2 separate regions of the Homo sapiens genome follow, and region 1 is linked to region 2. Evidence: fine-mapped expression QTL. A gene starts in region 2. The other region holds a variant in brackets. All regions are shown on one strand. Distances are from middle to middle. Region 1 holds the start of DBNL (drebrin like). Region 2 holds the start of STK17A (serine/threonine kinase 17a).

What was found.
Region 1: its variant is fine-mapped to the expression of STK17A in monocytes (Quach 2016, PIP 0.95).

What each region holds. Positions count from the first base shown.
Region 1 is chr7:44,033,375-44,049,822 of GRCh38, forward strand. It overlaps DBNL (drebrin like), which reads left to right and starts at 11,328. Exons shown (of 13, transcript NM_001014436.3): 1 at 11,328-11,446. The coding sequence starts at 11,364. It overlaps LINC00957 (long intergenic non-protein coding RNA 957), which reads left to right and starts at 5,675. Exons shown (of 3, transcript NR_072982.1): 1 at 5,675-5,775; 2 at 6,520-6,988; 3 at 10,879-10,922. It also overlaps the pseudogene RASA4CP. RefSeq lists enhancers at 3,010-3,509, 11,526-12,026 and silencers at 6,961-7,050, 7,141-7,250, 11,368-11,587. The variant C/CA (reference allele first, on the strand shown) is at 8,932.
Region 2 is chr7:43,574,277-43,590,724 of GRCh38, forward strand. STK17A (serine/threonine kinase 17a) reads left to right here and starts at 8,832. Exons shown (of 7, transcript NM_004760.3): 1 at 8,832-9,173. The coding sequence starts at 8,968. RefSeq lists enhancers at 2,853-4,052, 3,184-3,685, 9,632-9,681, 9,812-9,921, 12,650-12,709 and a silencer at 8,452-9,231.

The sequences.
Region 1 (16,448 bases), 460 kb after region 2:
CTAGGCCGGGCGTGGTGGCTCACACCTGTAATCCCAGCACTTTGGGAGGCCGAGGAGGGCAGATCACGAGGTCGGGAGTTCAAGACCAGCCTGGCCAACATGGTAAAACCCCGTCTTTACTGAAAATACAAAACTTAGCTGGGTGCAGTGGCTTGCGCCTGTAGTACTTGGGAGGCTGAGGCAGGAGAATCACTTGAGCCTGGGAAACAGAGATTGCAGTGAGCCGAGATTGCACCACTGCACTCCAGCCTGGATGATAGAGCGAGACTTGGTATCAAACAACAACAACAACAACAACAAAAAAAAACAAGAGCAGCTTGACTAACATGGTGAAACCCCATCTCTAGTCAAAATACAAAAAAATTAGCTAGGCTTGGTGGCGAGTGCCGGTAATCCCAGCTACTGGGGAGGTTGAGGCAGGAGAATTGCTTGACCCTGGGAGGTGGAGATTGCAGTGAGCTGAGATCGTGCCATTGCACTCCAGTCTGGGGGACAGAGTGAAAATCTGTGTCTGAAAAAAAAAAAAGAAGAAGAAATAAAAAGAAATGGGATTCTAACGTGTTTTCGGGCCTCCTTAGAGCCTTCAGCGAATTCACTCATGTGCTTCACACACATCACGTGGCATTTCCCAAACCACCTGGTCCACGGGACCCTTTCTGCCCAGAGCTCCTGGAGGGGCCAGCATTCCTTGGGTTATGTCCCTGCAGGTGCACAGCAGGGCTCACGGTCCCATCGTTCAGCCAGAGGCCCGATCTCGCAGTGGACGGATGCAGAGCCCGGGACCCAGGCCTCCTCTCCCACCTGTCTTCTCTTTTTGGTGGCAGCAGCTCCACTTGTCCCCACAGAAGATGCCAGGGTGGTAGGAGCCCAGCAGTCCGGTGTTGTTGATGCTCACCTTCCGCAGCACAGACAGCCACTGGTTAAGCTCATTCACACACTGCAGGGGACACAGAGGGGGAGGCCTGTTCAGACGTCACCTCCTCCAGGAAGCCCTCCTAACCCGGAGCTCCTGTACCATGCCAGACACCATGTTCCCCACCATACCAACCCAGCAGCTTTGAGTGAATTAGGAGAAGCTGCCCTTCCTCCAGTGGAACATGACCCATGCCCGGGCGCATGGCCTGGAGAGCAGGTGCAGTGGCTCACTCCTATAATCCCAGTGGCTCACTCCTATAATGCCATCATGGCTGGCTAATTTCTTTTTTTTAGAGATGGGGTCTTGCTACATTGGCCAGGCTGTTCTCAAACTCCTGGCCTCCAGTGATCTTCCCACCCCAGCCTCCCAAAGTGCTGGGACTACAGCTGGGATTATAGGGGGCCGAGGTGGGAAGATCGCTTGAGCCCAGGAATTCAAGACCAGCCTGGGCAACACAGCAAGACTTCATCCTCTCCTCTCCCACCTGTCTTGTCTTTTTGGTGGCAACAGCTCCACTTGTCCCCACGGAAGGCACCGGGATGGTAGGAGCCCAGGAGGCTGGTGTGGGCTGGATTTCAGCCGCCGCTGGCCCCTTGGCCACGCTCGTAGGTATTCCAGAACCCGCCAAATATATTTGGTGGCCCTGATATCACTACTTTTCCCAGTGGCTCTGGACCCTGACACAAAAGGGAACTCCTAGAGGGAAGGGCACAGAGGGACAGGTCTGTGACTTCCTCCCCACAGGCCAGGACGGTCAAGCCTGGAAGAAACCAACCCCCCTCCAGCTGCAGGCTTCCTACTTGTCCCACATGTCCCTGCCCTAGATACACATCTGGGTCACCCTCCTACAAGGTCCCTGCTCGAATGCCACCCATCAGAGGTCCTCCCTGACCACTCTTTAATTAATTTACTAATTAATTAATTTATTTATTTTGAGATGGAGTCTTGCTCTGTCACCAGGCTGGAGTGCAGTGGCTCGATCTCAGCTCACTGCAACCTCCACCTCTCAGGTTCAAGTGATTCTCCTGCCTCAGCCCCCCAAGTAGCTGGGACTACAGGCACACGCCACCACGCCCAGCTAATTTTTGTATTCTCCCTGACCACTCTTAATAGGACAGACCGCTCCCTGCTATACCCCACTCTCTTCCCTCCCTTGCTCCCTTAGTCCCTTCTGGTTCCCTTCAAGTCACTATCACAATTTGCTTTTTTTTTTTTTTTTAAGAGACAGGGTCTCACTCTGTAGCCCAGGCTGGAGTGCAGTGGTGTGATCATAGTTCACTGCAGCCTCCAACTCCTGGGTTCAGGCTATCTTCCTGCCTCAGCCTCCCAAGTAGCTGGAATCACAGGTGCATGCCATCATGGCTGGCTACTTTTTTTTTTGTAGAGATGGGGTCTTGCTACATTGGCCAGGCTGTTCTCAAACTCCTGGCCTCCAGTGATCCTCCCACCTCAGCCTCCCAAAGTACTGGGACTACAGGCATGAGCCGACATTTGAAACATGTATTTATTGGCCCATCTTCTCCCTGGGATATCAGCTCCATGAGGGCAGGACTCTGCCTCATCTGTCACTGTATCCCCTCACCTAGAATCATGCCTGGAACCTAGGAGGTGCTCAGTAAGTATTTTTTAAATAAATGAATGAATGAGTTAATGAAGGAACAGATGAGAAGGTTACTTGAGAACATGCACCCAGAGCCACACAGAGCATAATGTTTGATTATTAGGCATTGATACAGACACAGAACCACACAGGTGCCAGCTCAGACTTTCTTTTTTAGAGAAAGGGTCTTGCTCTGTTGCCCCGGCTAGAATGCTGGGATTATCCGCGTGAACCAGCGTGCCTGGCCCCCATCTCAGTTATCTGGAAATAGTTTCCAACAAACGGGTGCAACGTGCAAATTTCACATCACGGGGATGCACCTGTCTGTGCACTGGCCCACACACAGACCTACACATGGATGCCCAGGGAAAGACATGGGCCATGGCCTCCTGGGGGCTCAGGCCCCTGGACAACACACACACACCTGTCCCTGACACCTCCCAGATTAGACACACCCTGCGGTGCCTGATGTAGCTGGTAGCGGGGCGAGAGGCTCAATCAACTCTTTTCTCATCCAGTCCACTCAGGCCCCTCCCACAGCACCCAGGCCACTCCCACAGAGCTCAGGCCACTCCCATAGCACCCAGGCCATTCCCACAGCACCCAGGGCATTCCCATAGCATCCAGGGCACTCCCACAGCACCCAGGCCACTCCCATAGAGCTCAGGCCACTCCCACAGGGCTCATGCCACTCCCACAGTACCCAGGCCACTCCCACAGCACCCAAGCCACTCCCACAGTGTTCAGGCCACTCCCACAGCACCCGCTCCCCTCCCCGCACCTTGCACTGCAGGTAGGCAGTCTGGGGCCTGCCGGCGTCGTCCGTGTAGATGACCTGCATGACGTGCGAGCTGCCAAAGTTCTTTTCCTCAACCTTTTCTGCTGCCCGGATGTTGGCTAACTTGATGAGGGCGCTTTTCTGGGGCAGTCAGGGAGGAGGAGGCTCAGGGACCTAGCCAGGGGCATTCCATTCCCCATCTCTGGGCCTCAGTCTCCCCTTCTGCAGCACCAGGGGTAGGCGTGGGAGACCCAGAGTGACCTCAGCCAGGGCAGAGCACAGACTGATGGTGACCAAGTGCCCAGCAACTGGGAGAGGAGGACCTGGCCTCTCTGGGGGGCACTCCCAGAAGGCCTCGGAGGTGTGAGCTTTGGGGTAGTGTCTGGACAGCCAGCATTCCCTGGGCTACAAAGTCAATCCAGCCGTGGCCAAGGCTTTGTGACTTTGCATTTATTAATTTTCCAACTTGCTTTTGTAGTCCCAAGCTCTAACAGTCATATCCTGACCGGGCGCAGTGGCTCACACATGTAATCCCAGCATTTTGGGAGGCCGAGGAAGGCGGATCACCTGAGGTTGGGAGTTCGAGACCAGCCTGACAAACATGGAGAAACTCCGTGTCTACTAAAAATACAAAATTAGCCGGGCATGGTGGTGCATGCCTGTAATCCCAGCTACTTGGGAGGCTGAGGCAGGAGAATCGCTTGAACCCGGGAGGCGGAGGTTGCGGTGAGCCAAGATCGCACCATTGCACTCTGGCCGGGGCAACAAAAGTGAAACTCCATCTCAAAAAAAAAAAAAAAAATGGGACCAGAATTAAATAATGCCCATGTAGTCAAATCTTTCAACCCTGGCAAGGAAGATGTATAATAATCATCTGAGTGCTTTGGGAGGCTGGGGCAGGAGGATTGCCTGAGGCCAGGAGTTTGAGAACAGCCTGGGCAGCATAGCAAGACCCCATCTCTGCAAAAAAAAAATGTTAAAGAAAATTAGCTGGGCTTGGTGGCACGTGCCTGTAGTCCCAGCTACTCAGGAGGCTGAGGCAGGAAGATTGCTTGAGCCCAGGAGTTTGAGGCTGCAGTCAGCTATGATCGCACCACTGCACTACAGTCTGGGTGACAGAGCAAGACCCTGTCTCAAAAAATAATTATCATCATCTGAGGGGTCTTTGGTCGGAAGGGGCGGGCCCCTCATCTGGTGGGACCCCTGAGCTGGTTGAGAACAGGGTGGGTGATGAGCTCCTTCACCTACTCCTAGCCTGCTCTCACCTGCCCAGGGCTAGGCTGGGTACTCCTGGAAGATCATCCCCATAGCCTGCATGACTAGGGGCAGGTGTACAGCAAGCAGTCACCAGGTCCATGGAGGAAGTATGTCCTCAGCCCTTCCTGGGAGAAGAGAGCTTGCAGGAGAGGTGACCCATGACTCAGAGAGGGCTGTACAAGGTGATCTTTGAGATCCCCTCCCACACCAAGATTCCATGCTTCTATATTCCTGCCCGTTCCAGGAAGCCTCCCCTGTTTGCCCTAGCCTCCTACTCATCTAGCAGCCCAGGTGATGTACTATCTTTAATAATACCATTTGCCTAAATAGTACTACCTGCCAGGCCCTGGGTCAGGACCCTTAGGGAGATCATCTCATTTAATCCTCAACAACCTGGTAAGGTCGGATCAACTTCCTCCATATTCATTTTTTTTTTTGAGACGGAGTCTTGCTCTGTTGCCCAGGTTGGAGTGCAGTGGCACGATCTCGGCTCACTGCAACTTCTGCCTCCCGGGTTCAAGCGATTCCCGTGCCTCAGGCTCCCGAGTAGCTGGGACTACAGGCACCCACCACCACACCCGGCTGATTTTTTGTATTTTTAGTAGAGACGGGGTTTCTCCATGTTGGCCAGGCTGGTCTCAAACTCCTAACCTCAAGTGATCCACCCGCCTTGGCCTCCCAAAGTCCTGGGATTACAGGCGTGAGCCACCGTGCCCGGCCCTCCTAGGTTCTGACAAGCAGTACAGATGCCACACACCTGGCTTTCTTCTCTGACCCCGGGGGTACCTCAAGTGGGCTCCAAGGAAGGGGACAGGTGCCTCTAAGGTGCCCCACTTGCCGGCCTCTCAGAGCCCCACTTGCCGGCCTCCCTCCTTACCCACCTTGGAGCTGGGCGTCTTCGCGAAGCTGAGGGCCTCGGTAGTGAGGGAGAAGTAGAGCTTCTTGAAGGAGGAGGACATGAGGGGGCCCTTGCCCTTGGTCCTGTGGATGAAGAGTGGCCCCTCCTTCACAGGTGGCGCCTGCAAACTCAGCGTCCGCTGCAGGTCCAGCTCTGCCAGGCCAGGGAGGGAGGGGAATAGAGAGCCCAGGGAATGAGGGCGGGACTGGGGGGGGGGGGCGGAGCAGTGGGCGGGGCCATGGGGCTCAAGGGCTGAGCAAATCTGAACAGCAGGCAGTGGACGTAGTCATGGGGCTCAAGGGCGGAGCAAACATCAACAGCTGGTGGTGAGCGGGGTGACAGGTGGACTGAGGAAGGCAGGGCCATGGGCTTGGAGGCGGGACACGCGTCAGTAGCAGGTGGCGGCGGGGCTATGGAGCTCAAGGATGGAGCAAATGTCAACAGGCACAGATGATGGGAGGTGAGGCCATGGGTCTAGGGGTGGGGCAAACGTCAACAGCAGGCAGTGGGCAGGGTCACAGGAAGCACAAACAGTGGTGCGTGGGTCTATGGCCTGGGGGCCTGGCAAATGTCAACAGCAGGCGGTGGGTGGGGCCACGAGAGGAACAAACAGCGGTGGGTGGGGCCGTGGGGCTCAAGGGCGGAGCAAACGTCAGCAGTAGGCTGTGGGCGGGTCTGTGCAGGGCGGCGCTCACCGTCCTTCTCCTCGATGTCCACGAGCTTGGTGATGAAGTCCTTCAGCTGCGCCACGCCCTGGCGCACGGTGGGCTGCAGCGGCTCCATCCAAGCCTCCTTGGCCCTGGAAGCCGGCGTGTCCATGTTGCCCACGTTCTGGACTGCCTGGAGGTGACAGCAGGAAGGACCAGGTTCTGCTAGGTTAGGGGCCTAGCCACTGCACCCCCTCCCACCCCCCCTCCCCAAGTCTTTGCTACTCAGCTGTAGCGATGGAGGCAGAGGCGACAGAGGCCATGCCCACGGGCCCCCTCCAGCCCCACTAGGGATCAGGGAGGAGAGGATCATGAAGTTTGATGCCTTATGATAACTGAGACCACTTGGGCCTTCCTCTGTAGGTTTAACTGACGCTGCTGCACTGGATACCCCACCCCGGTGCCGGGCACATAGGTGCAGCCTGAGAGTAAGCAGACCTGGGTTGGAAGGTCCCGCGATTCACCACCGACAGGATGGGCGGCCTTGGCAACCCCCGACCCCTCGCAGGCCTGTTCCCTTATCCATGAGATGGAACTCGGACAAGGTGGCCACAGGAAGGCTTTGCAAACTGTGAAGTGCAGTGCCTACGTGGGCGTGCCAGTGGCCTCGCCGGAGCCGGTAGGGAACACTCTGCAGTCCAGGCCAGGGCCCCGGTAGGACACCCAGCTGTGCATCCCGCCCGTGGCCGCAAGGCCCGCACCTTGGCCAACAGGAGCAGGGTGCGGCTGGTGCGGGCGTCCGCGTGGCGCTCCCGCAGGTGGAAGAGCTTGGGCGACATGATGGCGGGAGAGAAGAAGCGCAGGCACAGGAAGCTGGTGACGGCGATGAACGGTACATTCTGGAGGGGTGCGGAAGAGCGCGGGCTGGAGTCCCCCAGACCAGGGCTCCTGGCAGCCCCCTCCCCTTAGGCTCCGTCCCTGACCCTCGCCGGGACACAGCCTCCCTGGTCCTCCCCAGCGCTCCCTGGTTCCCCACCGCTCTTCGCCCGCCCCTCGCCCCAGCCCAGTCCAACCCGGCCCAGCCTAGCCCAGCGGGTGGAGGGCGCACCTCGTGCTGGGCGCCGGGGAAGCGCTCGCGCACGCGCCGGAAGAGCTGGCGGAAGGTGGCGCGCACCACGGCGGGGCACGCGGGAACCGAGCGGCTGAGCGCGCTCAGCAGGGCCCCCAGGTGGGCGCGCAGCGTCTGCGCGCTCTGCTCCAGCACCTCGGCCTCGGTCTGCGGGCGGTGCAGCCCGGAACACCTGCGTGGAACGGGGCGGGTTGGCAGAGGAGGTCACGGTCAGCGCCAGGGCCACGACAGGAACAGTGGCTCTCACAGCAGCCGGGACACGGACACAGGGGACAATACACGGGTGGGCAGAAGCACAAACACACATGCTGACAGGGCCTGATCCCAACCCGCTGCCGCTGCGCCCCGCACCCCCCCGGAGTTACCCCCGGCCTCACCCTACATCCTTAACTTCCACTTTGCTGGGGTCCAGCTCCACGTACTTCTCCTCAAACACCTTGTTGATGATGGGGCCCAGGACGCCGTGCAGGTACTGCATCCCGGCCACCTGGGGACCACCGCAGGTCACATTGATCCTGTCTCCCCCAGTCCCACTCCAGCTGCCCACCTTCTCCCGGCAGCCGCCCTTGCACCGTTTGCCTGCCGTATCCGCCCAGGAGGGGGACAGGTACACAAGCAGGGCAAACTGTTTATTCATGAATGAATGAATGAGTGAGTGAATGAATGACTAGAATTCTTAGCCCTTGTAATCCTAGCACTTTGGGAGGCCGAGGCAGGAGGATCACTTGAGGCCAGGAGTTTGAGACCAGCCTGGGCAACATAGTGAGACTGTCTCTAACTTAAATTTTAATCACACACACATTCTTTTGGGGGGGGGGGGTGCGGGGCACGGAGTCTAGCACGGGGCCCAGGCTAGAGTGCAGTGGCGTGAGCTCACTACAATCTCTGGCTTCTGGTTCAAGTGAGTCTCCTGCCTCAGCCTCCCCAGTAGCTGGGATCACAGGTGCCCACCACCATGCCAGGCTAATTTTTGTATTTTTAGTAGAGATGGGGTTTCGCCATGTTGGCCAGGCTGGTCTCGAACTCCTGACCTTAAGTGATCCGCCCGCCTCAGCCTCCCAAAGTGCTGGAATTACAGGCATGAGCCACTATGCCCAGCCACATTCTTAACCTTAAAGGGCTCTCAATATGGAGATAGAACACTGGAGTCGAAGTCCCAGCCCCCTCTGTCGCTCTCTCTGAAGCTCAGTGTTGTCATTTGCAAGATGAGGACAATATAGCATGCAACCTCACCTTCAGAAAAGACTCCATGGACTTTGAGGCCAGAGAGTTGCTCCGGAACAGGGTGTTGGTCTTTTGTTACTTGGTCATAAGTAGGCGTTTTCCTTTTGATTTGGTTCTAGGAGGTTAGTGTGCATTGGCGTTCTGTTGCCTGCTTCCAGCCCCTATTCTCCTGCCTCAGGTTCATTAGAAAAGACTGAGTTTGGGGCCGGGCAGGGTGGCTCACACCTGTAATCCCAGTACTTTGGGAGGCCAAGGTGGGCAGATCACGAGGTCAAGAGATCGAGACCATCCTGGCCAACATGGTGAAACCCTATCTCTACTAAAAATACAAAAATTATCTGGGCATGGTGGCACGTGCCTGTAGTCCCAGCTACTCAGGAGGCTGAGGCAGGAGAATTACTTGAACTTGGGAGGCAGAGGTTTCAGTGAGCCGAGTTCGTGGTCACTGCACTCCAGCCTGGCTACAGAGTGAGATTCCATCT[C/CA]AAAAAAAAAAAAAAAAAAAAGAATGAGTCTGGCCCCTTTTTGTCTTTCTCTCATCCTCTTTGCCTTTCACCATGTTATGATGCAGCAAGAAGCCCCTCATCAGATACTAGTGCCATGACCTTGGACTTCCCAGCCTCCAGAACTGTGAGAAAATAAATTTCTGTTCTATGTAAATTACATAGTCTGTGGTACTTTGTTATAGCAGCACAAAACAAACAAGACAACAAGCAACAATCATGTGAACAGAAAGAAAAATGGGCATAACAAATGAACCATGTTTTTGTCCAAATTAGGTTCACAAGCCCTTATCTGCACCATCCAGACTCAAACACCTTAAGATTTTGGTAGTTCATTTGGTAGCAAAAACTGACCTTAATTGTCATGAGGATATTTAGAGTCGTCTTATATTCCACTTAGCTGATTATTCACACATATCACACACTTAGCTGATTATTCACACATATCACAGCAAAAGCATGAACATGTCTGATTACCAGTTCCTGTCCAGATCCTGTGATAAGGGCTTACCCAGGACATACATGGTATAACTTTTCTGAAATCTTAGATTGAATTCCAAAGCACATCTGGACTTAAGGGATTGTGGATATATACATATATATACTATATGTATATATATACACATATGCATATATATACATATGTGTATATATATACATGTGCATATATACATATACATATGCATATATAATATATGTATACATATACATATGCATATATATACATATGCATATATACATATACATATGCATATATACATATGCACATATACATATACATATGCACATATATACATATGCATATATACATATGCATATATACATATATGTATACCTATACCTATGCATATATATACATATATGTATACCTATACCTATGCATATATATACATATATGTATACCTATACCTATGCATATATATACATATATGTATACCTATACCTATGCATATATATACATATATATGTATACCTATACCTATGCATATATATACATATATGTATACCTATACCTATGCATATATATACATATATGTATACCTATATCTATGCATATATATACATATATGTATACCTATACCTATGCATATATACATATATGTATACCTATACATATGCATATATATACATATATGTATACATATATACACACATAGTATATATACATATACACTATGTGTGTGTGTATATATATACACATATATATACTATGTGTGTGTATATATGTATATATATACTATACTTTTTTTGAGACAGAGTCCCGCCCTGTAGCCCAGGCTGGAGTGCAGTGGCGCTATGTCGGCTCAGTGCAAGCTCTGCCTCCCTGGTTCACGCCATTCTCCTGCCTCAGCCTCCCGAGTAGCTGGGACTACAGGCGCACGCCGCCACGCCTGGCTAATTTTTTGTTTTAGTAGAGACGGGGTTTCATCGTATTAGCCAGGATGGTGTCGATCTCGTGACCCCTTGATTCGTCCACCTCGGCCTCCCAAAGTGCTGGGATTACAGGCGTGAGCCACCGTGCCCGGCAGGATTTATATTTTAAGGAGGCAGGGGAGTTATTCTCCATGGGAGGAAATAAGCCGTGAGCTGCCTTGCGCTTTGGCATGTTTCTCTATCATACAGATAAGAAGCTAGTTCAGTCAAGTGTATGCAGATTTGTGGATGGAAAAACTGGTGCTCCCAGGAGGAGGGGAGCAGATTGAGGAATTACTGACACCTTCTAGGGGCGACCAGCCAGATGTGCAGGTGAAGCACAAGACAGGTTCTCTTCATGCCTCCACTATCCTGGCCTCGACCAAACTGCAGAGGGAAAAACTCAGGTGAGAGTGAGAAAGCACAGTCACTTTCAGTTAGGTTTGTAGCGGTGTGATCGTCACTTAGCACTCATTTATTCGTGTATTCATACATTTATGCATGTTTCTTTCACAGATCAAACTGTTGAGGGTCCACAAACAGGCTGAAGACCTCGTCTGGAGGGAGACTGCAGTGAACCCAAGATCGTTCAAATAAGCGCATCGACATAACAAGATTTAGAAAAGAATAAGCACGGTGCTGTGAGAGCAGCTAGCGGGGGCTGGACTGGGTCCCTGCGGCCAGGCTTCCAAGTCGAGCTGCCGTTTGGGTGGGACCAGAAGACGGGCTAGTCTGCGCCCCAGGATCCCTCCCTGAGGACAAACAGAAGGCCGGGTCCTCCCTTCTCCCGCTTGTCCTTCGGCATTCGCGGGACCTGCATGCTAGACCAGCTGGCCGGACAGCTCGCTAGGACCCGCGGGTGCGGCTGGCCCCTACCATTTCCGCTTCCTGCCGTGGGGCGGGGTTTCCGGTTGTCGGAGGCGAGGCTTGTCGGCTGTCAAAGGGGCGGCCCGGCCCGGCCCGGAAGCTACAGCAGCGGCGCGGAGACTGCGGGGCGGGCCATGGCGGCGAACCTGAGCCGGAACGGGCCAGCGCTGCAAGAGGCCTACGTGCGGGTGGTCACCGAGAAGTCCCCGACCGACTGGTGGGCGGCGAGACGGGCCAGGGTCGGGCCAGGGGCTGCCTCAGGGGTGGGTCTGTCTGGGGCGAGCGGGGGACTCGGGGGGAGCGGGAGCGCGAGCGCGGAGCGGTGCCCAGGCAGGTGGCCTGGGGCTTACCTGTCTGCCCCTCCACACCGCAGCAGGAGTGCTGTCTCACCCTCGTGACCCCTTGCCCCGCCGATCGTGGACAGGTTAAACCCGGCTTGGGGGGACCCAGTGAGTCCCCGCCCCTCCCCCTGTCGCTCGCCACCCACTGTGGGCTTCGCGGGCTTCCATGTTGGATCCTCGGCCTGGTCGTGCTTGCTAGCTTCGCCAGGTTCTTCTTTCCAGTCCTGGGACTTCCCTGGAGAAGGGGTTCCTGCACAGCCCTCTCTGAGAAGGCGGAAGCCACGCCCGGTTTTTTTGCAAACGCTGTGTTCGGGGATGGGCATTTGAGAGCGGCCTGGCAGCCGGGCTGTGAATGTGAGCCCTGCCCTGGGGGCTTCAGACGAGGAGCTCAGGGATCTGGGTTCTTGGCTGTCTGTGAACGTGGACTTCAGAACTTTCGTTTCTCCAAAAAGTGTACTCTTTCTTGTGCCTGAGCCATGGGAAGATGTACGAAAGTAGGATGCTCGCTATCTATTTGGGAAAAGGTCCCATTTTCCCTCTACCACCCAAGATATCCTCACTTTCCTCTTTGCTTAAATTGTTTTTACTGACCAGTTTTGAGAAATCCCAGTTCTGAGAAATATGCTGAGTATGGTGGGCTAAGGTGACCAACTTTGGGGAATAGAAACTGGGCCTTGGAGTCTGAGTCGTGGTGGGGCCACACTGTGGTCAGCACTGAGGCCCTCCCAACTGTCTTCCCCTTGTGTGGGGGCCATCTCCACTTGTGTAAGTGCTTTCTCATCTCCTCTGCTCTCCGTAGTGCCCAGCACAGAGCGGCTTTTATGCAGTGTACTATTGTGACCCTGAGGATGTTATGGCTTTGCTTTTTCCTCAGCCCTGGGCCATTAGGGGAAGAGCTTTAGAACACCAGTTGCTTGGTTCTATGGGGTCTCTGTAGACTCTCCTGTCAGGTCTGAGTGCCCTGGATGGCACTTATGCCAAACAGCACATCTTCTGTTTTGGAGGCATCTAAAGAAGGATATCTCGTCATTTCCTTGGTGGGGTTTTCTGCCTGCTTTATAATCCCTCAGATTTACCCACGTCAGTCAGTGTTATTTTTCTCAGGAGAGTTTCTAGATGTCAGCCCTCTGTTTTGCCTCTCTCCTATTCCTGTTCGTGTTTCTCTTAGACCTCTCCTGTTACTTCAAACCCAGTCAAAAGTATCTCTGCAATGAGTGCCCCATTTTCATGTCCACATCATACCACTTGGCTTTAGAACCCAGAAGAATCTTTGCCCCTCTTCAGCCCTGCCAAATTAAAGATTTTGCTTCTTAACATGCTCTTGATCACTCTGTTTACCCTGGCAGACTTACCTAGGAGCTTCCTGGCACTCCTCATCTATCTCCCTTCCAGGTCTCTCTTCATCATCAGTCTTCTCAGGAACCATCACTGGTTTGGGATGATGCCTCCCAGCCCACCTGGCAGTTTGGGCTTCCCTCTTCAGACCTCCTATGTTCCTAGCCTTTCCTTGGGCTGCTTACGAGAGCTGTCTGCTACCACTCCTGGCCCGGTGCTTACCCACCCCATCTACTCTCTGTCCCTCATGAGGGTTGTGGAGCCTCCTCTTTCCCCTCATGAAGTCAGAACCCACCCATCTCACTGGACTCATCTGCCCAGACAGCCATGCTATGCTCCCTCCCTACCTCCAGGCTCCTGCAGCACTACAGGTTGTGTCACTCAGCAGCATAACCCACTGACCTCCACCCTCATCGTCACAGCCATTAAGGTAGTTACTCAGCAGATACTATGTGGCAGATTCCTGCACACTGCGGAAAAATATCTGGACCATGTCACTTCCGTGTCTGTAACTCTACAGTGGCTTCCTGTTGCATGTTGAATAAAGCCTAGACTCCTTGCCCTGCTGATGCCCTGCATGACCCAGAACCTACCACCCCTTTCATTTACCACACTGTGGCCACACCTGTTTGTCACCACTCTGGCCGTCTTTCTCTTCCTCAAACTTACAAGCTGGTTCCTCTTCAGAGTCCTTGCTCTGCTGCTTCCTCTGCATGGAGCACACTTTTTCCACATCGTCCCAGGTGGCTCCCCAGCCTTCACTTCTTGGCCCCGAGGTTGCCTTCTCAGAGAGGCCTTCCTTGATTCCTAGCTCCTTGTTTGTAGGCACTTTTTCCCATCTTTCTGTTTGACTTCCTTCAGACACATGCCAGACACAAAATATGCTGGAAATCCTTATGGATTTTCTTGTCACCTTTATCTCTTACTAGAAGGGGTGGGGTGGGCTCTGTCTCTGTCCTCGGTGCTTGAGGCACGGTTGTTACATGTGGCAGATGCTTAGATGAAGGATGGACCAAGTCATACAGAAAAAGTGGTAGAGATATCAGAGGAAGAAGAGGTGGTCTCTAGTTTGGTGGGTCATAAGAGGTTTCACACACACAGTGCTGGCATTGGGGAGGGCAGATAGAGTGGGGAGCAACCATGACATCAGCTCTCCATCTTGGATCTGTCTCCCGCCCCTGCTTACTCCGTATCTTGGCATGGTTTGTTCTCACCTGGTTCATGTGTCACCTTCAGCACCTGCTTCACTCTCTAATAGTACGTTAGTGTTAGGTGTGTGTTTTTTCTTCCGTTAGAAAGTAAGTTCCATGGGCAGGACCTTTTAGGGATTGTTCATAGCTGCATTCCTGTAACTAATAAGCAGTAGGCTCTCAGTACTTATTTTCAAAGGCACTATTGAATTATAAGATGCTTGACACTCCATATGCCTTGCTGTTCAGAGGCCAGTGCACCATGTTTTTTCATGTTGATTTGAAACTTCCTTCGCCCTTCTTTCAAAAGGCCTCTGAACTGGGAATGAGCCTCTGCGCTGGGAACATTCTTAAAGGTGGCCTGGGGTAGAGAGGGATCAAGTCAGAGGGATAGGTGGCAGGCATTGAGCTTGGCTCTTATTATATTAGCTGCTGAGTCCCTTTTTTTTTTTTTTTTTTTTTTTGAGACAAGAGTCTTGCTCTGTCGCCCAGGCTGGAGTGAAGTGGCACGATCTTGGCTCACTGCAACCTCTGCCTCCCAGGTTCAAGTGATTTTCCTGCCTCAGCGTCCCAAGTAGCTGGGATTACAGGCACCCACCACCACACCCAGCTAATTTTGTATTTTTAGTAGAGACGGGGTTTCCCATGTTGGCCAGGCTGGTCTCAAACTCCTAACCTCAGGTGATCCACCCGCCTTGGCCTCCCAAAGTGCTGGGATTACCGGCATGAGCCATCGCAGCTGGTTGAGTCCCTTCTTGCAAGAGCTGGGTTGAGCTGCCATCTTCTGTTACCTGCTGCTTGTGCCAGCTTGCTATCTTCTGGGAGCCAGGGCTTTGTGGCCATCAAGAGGAATGGGCTTCTTTCCTCCAGGGAGTTCCCCCCAGCTCATGCTGGCAGTGTGCCACCTCCCAAATCTTTCTCTTGTTTTTCTGTGTTCTTTTCTCTAGTTCCTTTTCTCTGAGTGTTTCTCATTCAGTGTTTCTCTCCTGTATTCTGTCTCCCCTCCTGGTAAGGAGTGCCTTTTCCCGGAGGCCTGTCTCCTCCCTACCAACCAGATCCACTGGGCCTGGGTCTAATTTCTTCCATTTTTCTGAGGCATAAGTATCTCTGCCCAGTGGCACTGGCAAAGCCCTGGGGAAGCCAAGTTGAAGCTGATTTGGTTCCTGTCCGACTGTTTATCCCTGGAGCTTCTGTCTGGCCTGCCTCAGCAGGCCTGTGCTTTAGAGCCTGGGGAGATGACACACACTGGACTGGGTTTTGCCTTTGACTTATAGTCCAGTGGGTCAGTGCCTCCAGCCCATGTCCAGCAGCCCTGCTGGGGATGTTCAGTTGCTGCAAGGTTCATGCTATTAGCAAGCCAGAATGAATCTTTACCAGAGTTTTGTTTTTGTTTTTGTTTTTAAGAGTTGGGGTTTCACTCTGTTGTTTGGGCTGGAGTACAATGGCATCATCATGGCTCACTGTAGCCTCGACCTCCCAGGCTTAAGCAATCCTCCCACCTCAGCCTCCCGAGTAGTTGGGACTACGGGCATATGCCACCACGCCTGGCTGATTTTTGTATTTTTGGTAGAGACAGGGTCCCACCATGTTGCCCAGGCTGGTCTCAAACTCCTGGGCTCAAGCGACCCTCCTGCCTCAGCCTCCCAAAGTCCTGGGATTACAGACACGAGCCACCCACCTGGCCCAGAGTTCTGTTCTTTTTTTTGAGATGGAGTCTCACTCTGTTGCCCAGGCTGGAGTGCAGTGGCGCGATCTTGGCTCACTGCAAGCCCCGCCTCCCGGGTTCATGCCATTCTCCTGCCTCAACCTCCTGAGTAGCTGGGACTACAGGTGCCTGCTGCCACGCCCAGCTGATTTTTTGTATTTTTAGTAGAGATGGGATTTCACCGTGTTAGCCAGAATGGTCTCGATCTCCTGACCTCGTGATCCACATCTGCCCGCCTCGGCCTCCCAGAGTGCTGGGATTACAGGCGTGAGCCACTGCGCCCAGCCCAAAGTTCTTATGAATAATTAATCTTTCAGGAAAAGAAAGCCATGGCCCCATGTCACCCATGGAGAGATAAGGCTCTGCTAGATAGAAAACTTGCTCATGGGTACCTGTCCGTGAGGGGCTTGGCAGGTTCATGGCTTTAACTGTGTGATTTCATGTCGTGTCATTCCTTTGTGGTTTCTGATAAACACAACCTGTGGTAGTCTGTGTTTACCAAAGAGTCTCAAGCCTGGAAGGACCTGCTGCCCTACCCACCAGGCTTCACTGGAGCCAGGGCAGACGTGCACAGGAGTGGTGGGCAGCCTTCCAAGGGGCCCAGTGTGTGTATTTCTCCGACTTGCTTCTCCTTTTGGGTGCTCTGGG
Region 2 (16,448 bases):
ATAAAATCAGGTATAGCGCTCTATACAGAAAAACACAGATCAGAACAACACAAGGAAACAAAAAGCACTTGGGTTTTTATCTTTCCAGTCTTTCTCCCCATTATCACTAACAATGGGCATTGAATTACCCTAAAAATCTTTGCCAATTTTATTGGCAAAAATGAAACCCCATTTATATTTCTCCAGGAAATATAAATTAAATTTGAACATTTCACTATAAAAAAATCTTTTATTTTCTTTGACCTCTTTCTAATATAGTGTTGGCACACCTCTTATTATATGTTCTTCATTTAGGGTATGATTTTTATCTATAATGCTTTTTGCTAATGTATTTCCAGCTTGTTTGCCTTCTAACTTTGCATATAACATTTTTTGATATGCAATGATTTTTGAATTATTAGGTAGTCAAATATTTTTCTTGGAGTTTTTTTCCACTGCTTTATTTCTTAGAAGTTACTTTTTCTTTCAGAAATCAGCTAATTGTCAAGGCCAGGCAAAGTGACTAATGCCTGTAATTCCAGCACTTTGGGAGGCCAAGGAGGATGGATCATTTGAGGCCAGGAGTTCAAGACCAACCTAGCCAACATGGCAAAAACCTGTCTCTACTAAAAATACAAAAATTAGCCAAGCATGGTGGCACATGCCTGTAATCCCAGCTACTCGGGAGGCCGAGGCAAGAGAATCGCTTCAATCCAGGAGGCAGAGGTTGCAGTGAGCCGAGCTGGCACCACTCCACTCCAGTCTGGGCAACAGTGAGACCCCGTGTCAAAAAAACAACAAAAAAAGAAAAAGTCAGCTAATTGTTATGTGTCATTTCTTTCTAGATTTTGTAGTTTTTGTTTGTTTGTTTTACATTTAATGATTTAGAAGATTTGGGGCTTATTGTGGTTTCTTAAATATTATAACTCTATTTCAAAACTATTCTGCTATGTTGAGCTATCTTATTTCATACTGTATTTTAATATGTTAGGACAGTTCTCTCCTTACGACTTTCTTTTGCAAAAATTTTCTAGCTACACTCATTTGGATATTCTTCATGATGAACTCTGAGATAATTTTAACACATTCCAAAAGACATATTTTTGAGACTTATTAGAATTTTGTTAAAGATACTGATTTATTTCCAAAGAATTACAGAATCTAATCTTTTCATCTATGTATCTCTATTGAAGCATTTGTTTATGTCTCTTAGAATAGATACATTCTTTAAAATAAAATATAAGCTTTGTGCATTTTTGTGAGGGTCGTTTCTGCATGCTTTATTTTCATTTTATTCAAATGGAATAGTTCCCCATTAGCTTTCATATCTCATTGTTATTATGTAGGAATGCTATTGATTTATTTTTATTAAACCTAATTGTCTTTTAAAATATATTAATTTTAATATTTTTCAGTTGATTCTTTTTTATTACATTTTACTTATTTATTTATTTTCTTTTATTTTAAAATTTTCTTTTTTGAGATGGGGTCTCATGCTGTCACCCAGGCTGGAGTGCAGTGGCACTATCCTGGCTCACTGCAACCTACACCTCCCGGGTTTAAGCGATTCTTATGCCTCAGCCTCCCGAGTAGCTGGAATTACAGATGCCCGCCACCATGCCCGGCTAATTTTTGTATTTTTAGTAGAGACGGGGTTTCACCATGTTGATCAGGCTGGTCTTGAACTCCTGACCTCAAGCAATCCACCCACCTCGGCCTCCCTCCCAAAGTGGTGGGATTACAGGCATGAGCCATCACACCCAGCCCTTTTTTATTACATTTTAAAATAGCATTAATAGAAACAAGGTTTCACTATGTTGCCCAGGCTGGTTTCAAACTCCTAAGCTCAAGCGATCTTCCCACCTCGGTCTCCCAAAGTGTTAGGATTACAGGCATGAGCCCGGTCCAGTTTATTCTTTTGGATATTCTAGAAGTAGAATATAGAATTCTCTACATTTAACAATTGTGACTATTCCTTCATGACCATTTAAATTCTTCCTTTCCAATATTAATGCCAGAGTGTCTTACTGCACTATTTAGGTTCTCAACTGCAACACTGAATAAGAGTCGTGATAGCACGTAACTTTGCTGTGCCTCTGACTTCAACGATAATACTTCTGTAGGTTTTTTAGAGATGTATCTTCTTAAGTTTAGGAAATTCCCTTCTATTTTAATCAGTCATGAGTGGGTATTGAATATTATGCAATGTTTTTTCCCAGCATTTTCTGTCAACATAGATGAGAAGTAAATTGGCCAATTTCCACTTATTTGTGATTGTGGCTTTTGGTTGTGGTTGTTTTATATCAAAATAATAGATGACATTTGGTTTCTTCCTTAATTCCACTATGATGATAGGGCATACTCTATAGAATTTCAGTCCTTTAAAATTGTTGAAAAGTGCTTTACGACCCACTACATAATCAATAAATATTCTTTTTGCAGCAAAATAATATATATTCTGTAGTGTTGTATGTGTATCATGTCAATTTTGTTCATTGTGTTGTTCAATGCTTCTATGTCCTTTCTATTTTTTTCCCTGCTTGTTCTATCAGTTACAGAGAGGAATGTGTTAAAAATCTCAGGTTGTGATGGTAGATTTGTGTATTTCTCCTTTTAGTTCTGTCATTTTGCTTCGTATATTTCAATACTATCTTTTAAAGATAGCATTGAATTGATTCTTTTTTCACTAATGCATTTTATCTCTTATAATACTTCTTGCCTTAACATCTACTTTGTCTAATATTTTTATAGGTACAACCAATTTTCTATTAGGCACAATAGGCATACATAACCCAGAGATATTGCAGATTCAGTTCCAGACTACTGCAGTAATAATATCATAATAAAGCAAGTCACACAAATTTTTTGGTTTCCCAGTGCATATATAAGTTATGTCTACACTATTCTATGGTCTATTAAGTGAGCAATAGCATTATGTCTAGAAAAACAATGTACATACATTGTACATTTTAAATGAATGTATATGCGAAACAACATACATTAATTTTAAAATACTATATTGCTAAAAAGTGCTATTGATCATCTCAGCCTTCAGTAAGTTGTAATTTTTTTGCTGGTGAGGGGTCTTGCCTCCATGCTGATGGCAACTGACTGATCAAGGTGGTGGTAGCTGAAGGTTAGGGTGGCTGTAGCAATTTCTTAATATAAGACAAAGATGATGTTTGCCACATTGATTGACCCTTTCTTTCACAAAAGATTCCTCTGTAGCATGCAATGCTGTTTGATAGCATTTTACCCACACAGTAGTGATGCAGGATTTTTTTGCTCCTTATCTAGGCTCCTTAGCCAGGCTCCTCCCCTGCATAAGACACGAATTCCTGGTGGCTCCACCCCATTCCCCCAGTGCTTGTGGGCCTCCAGTTCACTGCGGGCATGCTCAGGCAAGTCCCCTGTGCAGGTTCCCTTATCTGCACAAAACATCTGATGTAAACACTTGTGGGGCGAGTTGGAGATTCTCCGGGGACCCTTCCCTATCTGCCTAGGCCTTTGTCTGCCTCTTGCCTCTATCAGTAGGACTTCCTTCAAAATTGGAATCAAAATTGCCACCATTTTATCAACTAAGTTTATGTAATATTCTAAATCGTTTGTTGTCATTTCAACAGTGTTTACGGCATCTTCAACAGGAGTAGATTCCATCTCAGGAAACCACTTTCTTTGCTCATCTATAACAAGCATCTTCCACTGATGTCTTGAGCCCCTCAAAGTCATCCATGAGGATTGGAATCAACTTCCTCAAATTCCTGTTAATGTTGATATTTTTAACTCCTCCCATGAACCATGAATTCTCTTAATGACATCTAAAATGGTCAGAAGATTTTCAATTGACTTTGCCCAGATCCATCAGAAGATTCACTATCTATGGCAGCTACAGCCTTACAAAATATATTTCTGAAGTAACAAGACTTGGAAGTCAAAATTACTCCTTGTTCCATGGACAGCAGAATGGATGTTGTGTTAGCAGGCATGAAAACAATATTCATCTCCTTGCACATTTCCATCAGAGCTCTTGGGTTGTTGGTACATTGTCAATGAGCAGTAATATTTTGAAAGGAATCTATTTTTTTTTTCTGAGCACTAGGTCTCCAGACTGGGCTTAAAATGTTCAGTAGACTATGTTGTAAATACATGTGCTGTCATCCAGCCTTTGTTTTTCGATTTCTAGAGCATAGGCAGAGTAGATTTGGCATAATTCTTAAAGGCCCTAGAATTTTTAGAGTGGTCAAAGAGCATCGGCTTCACCTTAGAGTCATGAGCTGCATTAGCCCCTAACAAGGGAGTCAGCCTGTCCTTTGAAGCTTTGAAGCCAAGCCTGGACTTTTACTCTCTAACTCTGAGTCTTAGATGACATCTTCTTCCAATAGAAAGTCATTTAATCTACACTGAAAACCTGTTGTTTCATATAGCTCTCTTCATCAATTACTTGAGCTAGATCTTCTAAATAAATTCCTGCAGCTTCTACATCAGCACTTACTACTTCACCTTGAACTTTTATGTTATGCAGATAGTCTCTTTCCTTAAATCTCATGAATCAACCTCTGCTAACTTCAAACTTTTCTTTGGCAGCTGCCTAACCTCTCTCAGCCTTCAGAGAATTGAAGAGAGGTAAAGCCTTGCTCTGGATTAGGCTTTGGCTTAAGGGAATCTTGTGGCTGGTTTGATCTTCTATCCAGACCACTCAAACTTTCTCCATATCAGCAAGAAGGCTGTTTCACTATTTTTATCATTCCTATGTTCACTGGGGTAGTATTTTTAATATGTTCACTGGGGTAGTATTTTTAATTCCCTTCCAGAACTTTTCCTTTGTATTCACAATTTGGCTAACTGGCTCAAGAGGCCTAGCTTTCAGCCCATCTTGGCTTTCTACATGCCTTCCTCACTAAGCTTAACCATTTTGAGCTTTTATTTCAAGTAAAAGACATGGGAATCTTCCTTTCACTTGAACACTTAGAGGCTGTTTTAGGGTTTTTAATTGGTCTATTTCAATATTGTTGTGTTTCAGAGAATAGGGAGGCCTGAGGAGAGGAAGAGAAATGGGGGGCTGATTGGTGGAGCAGTTAGATCACACACATTTATCAATTAACTTTGCATGAGTGCAATTCATGGTACCCAAAAGCAATTACAATAATAACATCAAAGATCAAAGATCACGGTCCACCATAACAGATATAATAGTAATAATAAAGTTTGAAACATAGTGAGAATTACCAAAATGTGACAGAAAGAAATGAAGACAGCACATACTGTTGGAAAAATGGCACTGGTAGACTTGCTTGATGCAAGGTTGCCACAAACCTTCAGTTCGTAAAAAATGTAATATCTGCAAAGTGCAATAAAGCAAATTGCAATAAAATGAGATATGCCTGTATTTACATGGCATAATTCTTTCCATCCTTTCAATCTTTCTGTAGCCTTTTATTTGAGGTGTCTCTTACAAGCAACATATAATTGATATTATTTTTAATTCTGTCCATAGCATTTGCCTTTTAACTGGAGTATAGATTCCATTTATATTTAATGTACTTGCCAAAAAACCCTCCTGTTTTAAAAAATTTACCTTTTTTTTTTTTTTTGAGACAGAGTTTCACTCTGCTGCCCAGGCTGGAGTGCAGTGGTACAATCTCGGCTCACTGCAGCCTCCGCCTCCTGGGTTCAAGTGATTCTCCTGCCTCAGCCTCCCGAGTAGCTGGGACTACAGGTGCCCACCACCACGCCTAGCTCGTTTTTTGTGTTTTATTTTAATAGAGATGGGGGTTTCACTATGTTGACCAGGCTGGTCTCGAACTCCTGACCTCAGGTGATCTACCCTCCTTGGCTTCCCAAAGTGATCATCTATTTGTTTCTACTTGTCTGTGTTCCTTTTTTCCCTTTCTTGCTTCTTTTATTTTTTATTTTTTCATTTCCCCTCTTTTTTACATGTTATTCATTCTTTTTCTATTACTTTTGCTGTTATTCTAGAGATTATAATATTCATTATTGATGTATTAAAGCCAAGTACTTTTATCAATTCCTATACAATCCTAGGACTTTAGAACACTTTACTTTCATTTACTCTATCTCACTTTTTGTGCTGCTATTGTGTATATTTTAATTCTACATATATTTAAACTTCACATGACGTTATTTTTATTGTTTTATATAAATTGTGTTTATTTATATCTATCCATATATATATATGTATTTATATCTATCCATATATAAAAGGATTGATTGCTCTTCATTCCTTTAGATGTCTCCATGATTTCATTTGGGATTATATTCCATCTGCCTGAAAAACTCCTTTTGGAATTTCCTTTAATGTAAATCAGCTGATGATCTTAGTGTTTCTTGGTTATAAAACTGGCTGTATTTTATTTTCAATTTTGAAGATCATTTTTACTGGGTATATAATATAGGTTGATAGGTAATTTCTCCTAGCGCTTTGAAAACATTTGAAGGTGTTTAGGCTTCCATTGGTTCTTTGAGAATAAGCTTTTAATTTTATTGTTGCTCATTTGCAGATTATATCTCTGTTTTCTTTGCTGATTTTAAACCTTTTCTTTTTGATTTTGTTTCTCAGTAGTTTACAATGTGCCTAGACATGGTTTTCTTTGCTTGAAATCCTGCTCTATGTTCATAATGTTTCTTGACTCTGAGAATTGTTGTTCATTAGTTTTAAAAAATTTCCAGCCGTTATCTTTTCAAATACTGCTTCTTTTCCTTTTTTCTCTCACCTCTCTTCCTGATATTCCAATTACGTGTGTGTTAGAATGTTTTACCACATATCACATGTGTCATAGTCTCCTTTCTGAGACCTTATCTCTTTTATAGAAAGTTCTTTCATATCTCTTGTATGTCATTTTTCATATTTTGTTTTGCTTATTAGCTTCACTAATTCTTGCTTAAGTTGTATCTCATCTGTTATTAAGCCCATAATTCTGTAGTAGTTTTAGTTAGTGTGTTTTTTTCTCCAATTCCAAAATTCCATTGTATTCTTCTTTGGAGTTTCCAGTTCTCTGCTGAAAACTCTTTATCTTGCAATTTAATTTCTTGAAGATATTTAACAGAATTATTTTAAAATCTGTCTTTAAACTTTAATATCTGGATCTTCTGTGTGTTTATTTCTGTTTTCTTTTTCCCTTAGTTTTTAAGACAATTCTGTGTCCTTTGTTTAAATTAAGTTTCAGACATGGTGTATAAAATATTATATGGGTAATGTGTTGCTCTGAATGATGCTTTTTTTCCCCAGAGAGAATATTTACTGTTGCCATTTGAAGCTGGTTTTCAGCCCTTGGGTCTATTTCCCGTTCATCCACACCCCTAGGGTATAGCTCTTCGGAGTCCCAGCTGAAAGCCTAGTTGCTTACCAGCCCCTCATCATAAATAGGTCCTAAACTCCAATTTTTTTTTTGTCTCCCCAACCCCATGAGATGACTGAAAGCTCTGCTTACTTTCTCACTCTTTCAGCCATGGCTTTAAAATCATCAAATACCTCATGGGAAAAGTGGTGGCTTTCTGAGCTGCCTATCTTTCCAGGATTTCAGTCATCCAAGTCCTTGCTGGGAGAGGAAATTTTTAACTTTTGTCAACTTTTCTATTTTTTCTTAGTGAGAATATTGAACACAAATAAACTAGTATATCAGTGCCAGAAGCAAAACTCCACTGAGACAGTCTGAGTAGAGCAGTGGTGTGATTTGGTTTCGATTTTTAAAAGATCACTCTCATTGCCTTGAAAATGAACTATGCGACATTAGGGAGAAAGAAGGATGGAAGCAGGTGGTCCAGTTAGTAAACTATCACAATAATCCAGGTAAGAGATAACGATGGCTCAGGCCATGGTGGTAAGGTGGAAATAGAGAGAAGTGATCAAACGCCGCATCTAGTTTGAAGGAAAAGACAAGAGGGTTTACTGACAAACTGGAGATGAGCATGAGAGAGGAATCAATGCTCATCCCAAGATTTTTGGCCTGAACAGCTAGAAGGAAGGAGATGAAGAAAACTGAGACGGGGAAAGCTGGGTAGGAGTGCATTCATGAAGACCAATCAGCAACTTACTTTTGTGTATGTTAAGTCTGAGATGCTAATTTGACATGTAAGTGGAGATGCCAAATGCATAGTCAAATACACCAGTCTGAAGTTCAGGGAATATTTGGAAGCTAGAGATACAAATTCTGTAGTCATGAGCATATAGATGGTAATTAAAGTCGTAAGACCGGATGAGAGGACCTCGAAAGTAAATATAGAGACGACTACAGACAATATAATAGTGTCTATTTCATAGGGCCGGTGTGCAGGGTTAATAATATTTATACAACTCTGCCTCCAGACCCCTCTCCCAGTGTACGGAGATCAGGATCTCATCACCCCTCCCCACCACGTGAAGTCCTGCTTACAGCTCAAATGCCTTTTATTAACCGAAGTGCCTCCAGACCCCTCCCCTCCTCACCACGTGAAGTCCCGCTTACAGCTCAAATGCCTTTTATTAACCGAAGGTCAGCTTTTGTGACTCTCAGACGCTCAACAGGTGCGCAACTCTGCTAACGCAGTAGGCTGTCCTGGCCAAAGGGTGGTGCTGTGAGTCGCCTCCAGCCTCCGGGCCGTCCCGAAAGCTGCACCTTCTCCCCCTGAGCTGCAGAGGGCGCGCGTGAGGCATCGGGCGCTCAGGACCCCGCGGGAGCTCAGCGAGGGGGCGGGCGGCCACGGAGTGAGGCCGGGGCGGGGTCGGGCGCGGGGCGGACGTGGGGAGGGGTTGGCCGGGGCCAGAAGCAGGGTGCAGGGCAGGCGCGGGGCGGTCACGGGGGCGGGGCCGGTCGCGGGGCGCGGGGCGGGCCCGAGCTACCGGTAGTCTGCCTGCCGCAGTCCGAGCGCCGCGCTGGGGAGAGCGGGTGTTTGAAGGCTCCGCGGACCGGCACTAGGAGCCGGGGGCGGGTCCGTGACCCTCCGGCTGCTCGGAGTGAACAGGCGGCCAGGAAAGAAGCGGGCCTGAACACCATGATCCCTTTGGAGAAGCCAGGCAGCGGCGGCTCCTCCCCAGGCGCCACCTCAGGCTCGGGCCGGGCAGGCCGGGGTCTGAGCGGGCCGTGCCGGCCGCCGCCGCCGCCCCAGGCCCGCGGGCTGCTGACAGAGATACGCGCCGTGGTGCGCACCGAGCCCTTCCAGGACGGCTACAGCCTGTGCCCGGGCCGGGAGCTGGGCAGGTGAGGACGGGCGGGGCCCGGCGCGGAACCTTCCCGGACGCGCGGGGCGGGACGTGGGCGCCGATAAGTGCCGGCGCCGCGGCGGCGAGGCTGAAGTGGCGTTGCTGCTGCCGATAACGCGCGTTGTGACTTGGCACAAACTTGGGTGCCGACGGCAAGTAGGGCAGCCGAGTCGCACCAGCGCCCCCTCCACGCGCCGCGCCCAGCAAGCGAGTGGTGGTAACTCGATGGCGGTCCCGGAGGCGCGGACACTTTCCTCAGCCCTTTCGTTCTCTGTGGCGTTTCGAATGGCTATTTAACGAGAGAAGGTGCGGGCCGCGCTCTGCCTTTCACCCCGAGCAGCGGGTCTGAAAACCAGAGGTCTGTGGAGCCGACTTTGCATTTTTCCTTCAACTCTTGCGACTTTCTTGGTCTGCCTGTGTGGTTTTAATAAAATACAGCATCCGTTGTGACCGCTTCCTTTGCACCGGCGCTCTGTTACCTTGTGTCGGTCTTCTGCTGAATTCATTTTCGTTTTCTTGGTTGGTTTTCTGCCGTTTTAGTTCTAAAGCATTTAGGTCCCTTTGCTTCGAGTTTAGATTGGTTTCTTTCGTGGGCGCTTGGCCCTTTTCTCGCTTTTTACTTTGCTGGGAACCGATTCTTGCCTTCTCCCCCCACCCCACGCTAGCCCACCCTTTTTTTGTGGGAGTAGAGAGAGCTTACAACTTGGTCTGTAAAGTTGCAGGTGCAGGCTGTTCGGATGCTTTACATTTTGTATGCTGAAGAGGGGTGATCGAGTGATTTTTGTGGGGTTTGGCGACTCTTCCTTGAGAACAGTTTGAAGAAGTTGTTAAATACTCTGGCTTTGGGGGCAGACCTGAGTTCATATTCGTGCCCTTCTTGCTGTGTTTGCCTTTGGAGGGGTTAGACTCTCCAGCCTCACTTTCCTCATCCGTAAAATCGTATAATGATGACAGTACCTACCTCAGAGGTGGCCTGAAGATGCCATGCTTGTCAAGCGCATACCACTGGGCTTGCCACATGGCGTTCAGTAAATGTTCGCATTATTGCCAGCATTTGTCATGGTTGCAAAATAGCACCATGTTGTAATGGGAAAGGGCCTGACAGTTGGAACAGCCTTCAGCTGGGGTCTTGGAAAGGCAAACAATGTAACATTGGTTATAATGTTAAAAACACACTGCCTTACACATATTAAGGTAACTTTTGGAAATAGTTTTTTTTGGGGGGTGGGGGTGTAGGGAGGGTGGAATCCTACCTTAACAAAGTCTTACTTATTCCTAAATGTTAACAAAAGGAAAAACACCTTTCAGGAACAAGATTTACTTCACTGCTAGGCCCTAGTTGACTGGATCTGTGCATACTTTGTGACAAAAGATGAAGGGAGCTGTGACTTAGCTGTGTATTCTAATTTGTCGACATTCCAAACATTCTGAAGTAACCCCTATTACCTGAAAAAAGGAAAACTGGCCGGGCGCAGTGGCTCACGCCCATAATCCCAGCCCTTTGGGAGGCTGAGGCGGGTGGATCACCTGAGGTCAGGAGTTCCAGACCAGCCTGGCCAACATGGTGAAACCCCGTCTGTACCAAAAATACAATAATTAGCTGGGCCTGGTGGTGGGCGCCTGTAATCCCAGCTACTCGTGAGGCTGAGGTAGGCGAATCACTTGAACCCGGGAGGCGGAGGTTGCAGTGAGCCAAGATCGCGCCGTTGCACTCCAGCTTGGGTGACAGAGTGAGACTCCATCTCCAAAAAAAAAAAGGAAAACTACGTTTTTCCATTATTTGGTTGTCTGGCTTCATTCCACAAGGAAAACCGGTGCAAATATTACAAAACGAATGTCTTCAGGTGGCAAGCACTGTCTTGGAGATGTTATAATCTGGAAACTGATTTGCACCCCACCAGGTGTTATGGTACCAATTCCTTCAGGAATGTTTCTTTCAACTTTTGTTTTAAACTCCATTATAAAATTAGCTTTCCGATCAGGTTTTTTTTTAAGATTGTGATATCTTCTACATATCTTTTCTTACATAAATTTCTTTACAAAAGGAGTAGATTGTAAAGCTGCATAACAATGCAGTTATTAGATAAATACTTGATATAAGAGCCTGGAACTGAAAAATAAAATTAAATCTATTCTTTCCCTTGTGGCACCCTTTTTTATCGCATAGGAGTTTAATGCAGTGCTTAAGAACATTGGCTTTGGAGTCAGACAGTGTGAGATTGAATCTTGGCTCTTACTAGTTATGTGGACTTGAGTGCATTACCTAACCGTTTATTGCCTCATAGGGTTGGTGAGAGAATTAAGTAAAACACATAGCCTTAAGGCTGTGCTTAGCTTAGGGGAAGCACTCAATAAATGTAATTCATGGTGTAATTCAATAAATGTTATTATTTTAAATGTAACCCAAAAAGAAAACCTGCACAATCTCAAAAAATGCCTCTATGTCTGGCAAAAGTAATGAAGTCACAGGAACTGTTCAGAAGTCTCAGGAAGGAAAAGTTCTGTTTGTGTATAAGCAGTCCTTGTTTAAGTTTTATAAACTTTGCCTGTATTTATGGTTTTAACATAGCTAAGTGTGTCTCTGCTTCATCTTTGATAAGATAGAAAACCTATTTTTCCAACAATTAACTCTGGTTGCATTTCTGATATAACTAATTAATCTCACGCTGATAAAGAACTTGGAGAATACCCGTGTTAATAGTTTAATGATGTGGGAAGAAAAACAGATTTTTTTTTTCATTTTATTCTATGGCCTTTCATTTAGTAAAATGCAGAAGGGGTGTGATGAGTTAACTGTTCAAACAAATCATTCTTTTTCAGGTGCTACTATGTTATCACAGATCTAAAACTTTCAATGAGATGACTGTTCAAAGAGAATTTTTTAAATGGTCAACATTGATTCCAGAGTAATGACAGGATGTGATGTTGATCATTTAAGAAATGTTGCATTCTTTCATGTCTCCAACAGAGTCCATAGCAGCGTAAATAAGGGTAAATATATGATGTAAAACATTCTTTTATTGCTTGAAGCTTGACTGGTTAAGGCTTGTTACCTTTCTTTGAGTCAGGATGTATGCCAATGTAAACCACATTAATGATTTCGTTACTGGGGCACACAAGAGAAATGACCTTGGGTTCTGATAATTTTTTCGTGTTGATTTCCCTTGAGTTTATTGATAATATAGAAACAGAAAGATGTTTCAAGGAACTTAAAGATAACACCAGTTTCATAGCAAATGATTTGCCTTACATTTGTTTTCATTATCTAGTCCTCAACTTTAATGTTTTTAATATACCGATAAATTTTTTCTTAAGAAAAAAATATTTTAAGCCAAAAGAACACTTTAAAAATATTAGTACATGCTAATAGTTGGATTTTCCTAAGGAAAAAAGTTACAAATACAAGTTCCCATCTGAAACAGGTACTTTATAATGTGCAGGCCTTACAGTTTTACAAGTGCTTTCACATGCATTATCTCATTGATTCTCACCACAAGCCTGTTTGGAAAGCCCCATTTTTCAGATGAGAAAACAAAGACAGATTTAAAAGTCTTGTGAGAGATAACAGAGCTGGGACTCCTGACTTTGAAATCATTCCCATTACACCACACATGTTTTTCAAAGAATAATTTGTAGTCTGTATCTTATGACTAAAGCAATTTCCTGTCATTTTAATGAAATGATATGTTTTTATTGTTTTTTGTTTTTTTTTTTTTTTTTTGAGATGGAGTCTCGCTCTGTCGCCCAGGCTAGAGTGCAGTGGCGCGATCTCAGCTCACCGCAAGACCCGCCTCCTGGGTTCACGCCATTCTCCTGCCTCAGCCTCCCGAGTAGCTGGGACTATAGGCGCCTGCCACCATGCCTGGCTAATTTTTTGTATTTTTAGTAGAGACAGGGGAAAGGATCTGTTAATGAGTTCTACATTGGAACAAACATGACCAAGCTTCAGTGTCATATAGTTAAGTTCCCACTGGGGCCTTAAAGTAAATTAGGGATGTCCTATCTCATTCTCCTCAGAGCAGTCAGGGGTAATAGGGACAAGAGAGGATTTTTATCAGAGAATAAGAGAATATTCAAACTGAAAGGGGACTCTGGGTGGGTATTTTGGGGACTGTGTGTCCTTACCTAGATTGATGGCTGTAGGTAATAGCTTCAGTTTTTGTATCTGACAAGAACTTAAGCGTGTGTCATAAGTTATCATTTTTTAACAAATAAAGACCTTTATTAAGTAATATCCATGCAGAAATTGCTTTGTTTTAACACAGATGTTATTTAAGATTTCTTGACAGCTAGTCATTAGTTTGAAGAATTTTATTTACAAACAGTTTTGGGTAATCTGATACTTTGGATAGATAAAAGAAAATTGGCCATATTTGTGGTTCAACAATAAAGTTACTTGGAAAGTATGGCTTCTGCTCTTAGGCAGGTACTTTAAGTCAGTCAGCTGTTTAATTTTGAAAAGTTCATGCTTCAAATGTTAAAATCTTAATTTAAAATACATGAATGTAAGAATTTGAATTTTAATCTTTTCATAAAACCATAGATGACACAATTTTATAAAATATGATTATTGAACCAAATGCATTAGAAAGCTAAGTAGCTATAGTCACCTCTTCAGGTAAGTAAGAAGTTAACTAGATTTCTTGAGAGAATTTACACATTATGTAGACTTAATAGCTCACCTCCAGAACTCCTGTTCTGATATTTTTTTTAAATTATTATCATTGGTTATATCATAGATCTGAAATTAATGCCAAAAACAATAAAAATAGCCACTGATTATTGATCATTTGCTGAATGCTACACACTTTAAAGATGTAATTTTGTATAGTCTTCACTGCCCTGTATGGTAAAGTGCCATTGATCTCATTTTACAGATGAGGAATCCCAGGTTCCAAAGGATTAATAAATTGCCCAGTATTACACACTTGTTAGCCAGAATTTAAAACCAAGTTTGACTTGTAAGGCCCTGCCTTTTCTTATCACGCATGCTAATGTCTTATTTGAATGGACTCACTGATTTTTACGCCTAGGGTCTTTTCCTTGGTCCTTTCAGCGATAAGGAAGACAAAATCCATTCTAGGTTTTTCCTGAATGGAACTTCTTTACGTTTAAGACATGGCTCACACCTGTAATCCCAGCACTTTAGGAGGCCAAGGTGGGCGGATCACTTGAGGTCAGAAGCTTGAGAGCAGCCTGGCCAACATGGTGAAACCTCATCTCTACTAAAATTACAAAATTAGCTGGGCACACACCTGTAGTCCCAGCTACTTGGGAGGCTGAGGCGGGAGAATTCCTTGAACTTGAGAGGTGGAGGTTGTGGTGAGCAGAGATAGTGCCACTGTACTCCAGCCTAGGTGACAGAGTGGGACTGTGTCTCAAAAAAAGAAAAAAGACATCACTCCAGTGTAATTAGGCAAATACTGTACTTATGTATCAAGTACATAAAAGCACTACCTTAGGCTCTGGAAGCTATTCCCAAATGTAACAGATCAATCACTGTCCCCTTTATAGGCAAGATGATATGCCACTGGAAGGTCTTATGGGGGAAATAACATTTCAGTTGGGCTGTAAAGAATGGATGGAATTTCAGTAGTAGTTGCCATTGTCAATAAAACAGCAAGTCAGAGCAGTAGAAAAATTCAGTGAAGAGAGAATGGCAAGTAGTCCAGTATATTAAATGTCATGAGGTTAAGTTGCCATAAAACTTTTATTTAACAAAATAATAAGCAGTATATATACTAGGTGTGCTGATTATATTTGCACACCTGCCATGTGCAGGGCACTATGGAGATAAAAAGATGAAGAATAAGTGAGGTCCCTGAAACTCACAGTCCAGCTGGGAGACATAGTACAACAAGTTGTAATATATAAGATTGACATAAATATAATAAAGGTATAAACAAAGCACTTTAACCTAGAATAAAACAGGACCTTGGACATTATTTTACTTCCCCTTTGTACTGCTCAAATTAGCATGTGCATTTTCTGATGTTTACCTGAATGTTATATATTCTATTATCTCTTCACCTTTGCTTATAATCCAACACTTGAATTTGTATTTGGAATCCCTTCAATAAATGGGATTCTCTTTACCAAAAAAGGCAGCTCAACCTTCTGTCCAACTATAACTCCTACCACATTACACAGTACTATAACTGGTACCACATTTACACAGTACCTATATTAAAAATCTAAAAGTCATCCATGACTTTCACCTTTCCTTTCTCCTCTCATCTCTGCGTACAACTCACACCTGCCAGGGAGTGCTAATAAATCTTGACTTTGAGTGTCTTTTAAACATATTCTCTCTTCCCAGTCCCTACGCTGGTACTTGAGTGCAGACCTACTGCTTTGAATTATTTTATTGGCCTCTCTGTTTCTAGTTATCACTGGCAATCCACTCTTCACAACACTATTAGAATTACCTGTTTTGTTTTATTTTATTTTATAATTTTATTTTAATTTTATTTAATTTTAATTTTAATTTTATTTTATTTTATTTTATTTTATTTTATTTGAGACAGGGTCTCATTCTGTTGCCCAGGCTAGAGTACAGTGGCATGATCTCGGCAGCCTAGATGTCCCAGGCTCAACTGATCCTCCCATCCCAGCATCTCAAGTGCCAGGACCACAGGTGCACACAACCACGCCTGTCTAATTTTTGTATTTTTTGTAGTGACAAGATTTCGCCACGTTGCCCAGGCTGGTCTCGAACTCCTGGGCTCAAGCAATCCGCCTACCTCAGCCTCCGAAAGTGCTGGTATTACAGGCATGAGCCACCGTGCCCAACCAGAATTATCTTTTCTAAACAATTATTTTCAGTATTCTAATAGGTTCCAGTTTTAAGCCTGATGAAGCCCAAACTCCTTAGCAAACATACCTACCTAAAGATACTCACCCTGTCTCCCTAAGCAGTGTTTTTAGGCACTGATAATGCAAAGGACTTAGGGAGCTCGGACTGGTGGGTCTCAATCAAATGTCACCTCCTCTTGTTATAATTGTTTATGTATCTTACCTTTCCCACCTCTCTGGAATATGTTTTCAGTGAGTAGTTCTGAAATGTATTCATTTCTGATATTCATCCCAAAATATTTAATGAAAACCTAAGTTCTCAGTTTTGTACCTATTAGCAAAATATAGATGTTTTTGAAATGAAAAAATATACCTGAAAATTATGGCAACTGTTTATTCCAGGAAGAAGTTTGGCTTTTGAGTCAACAAAAAAAGTAGATGTGCAACAAACATCTTATGCCCTTTGGACCTCATCAGC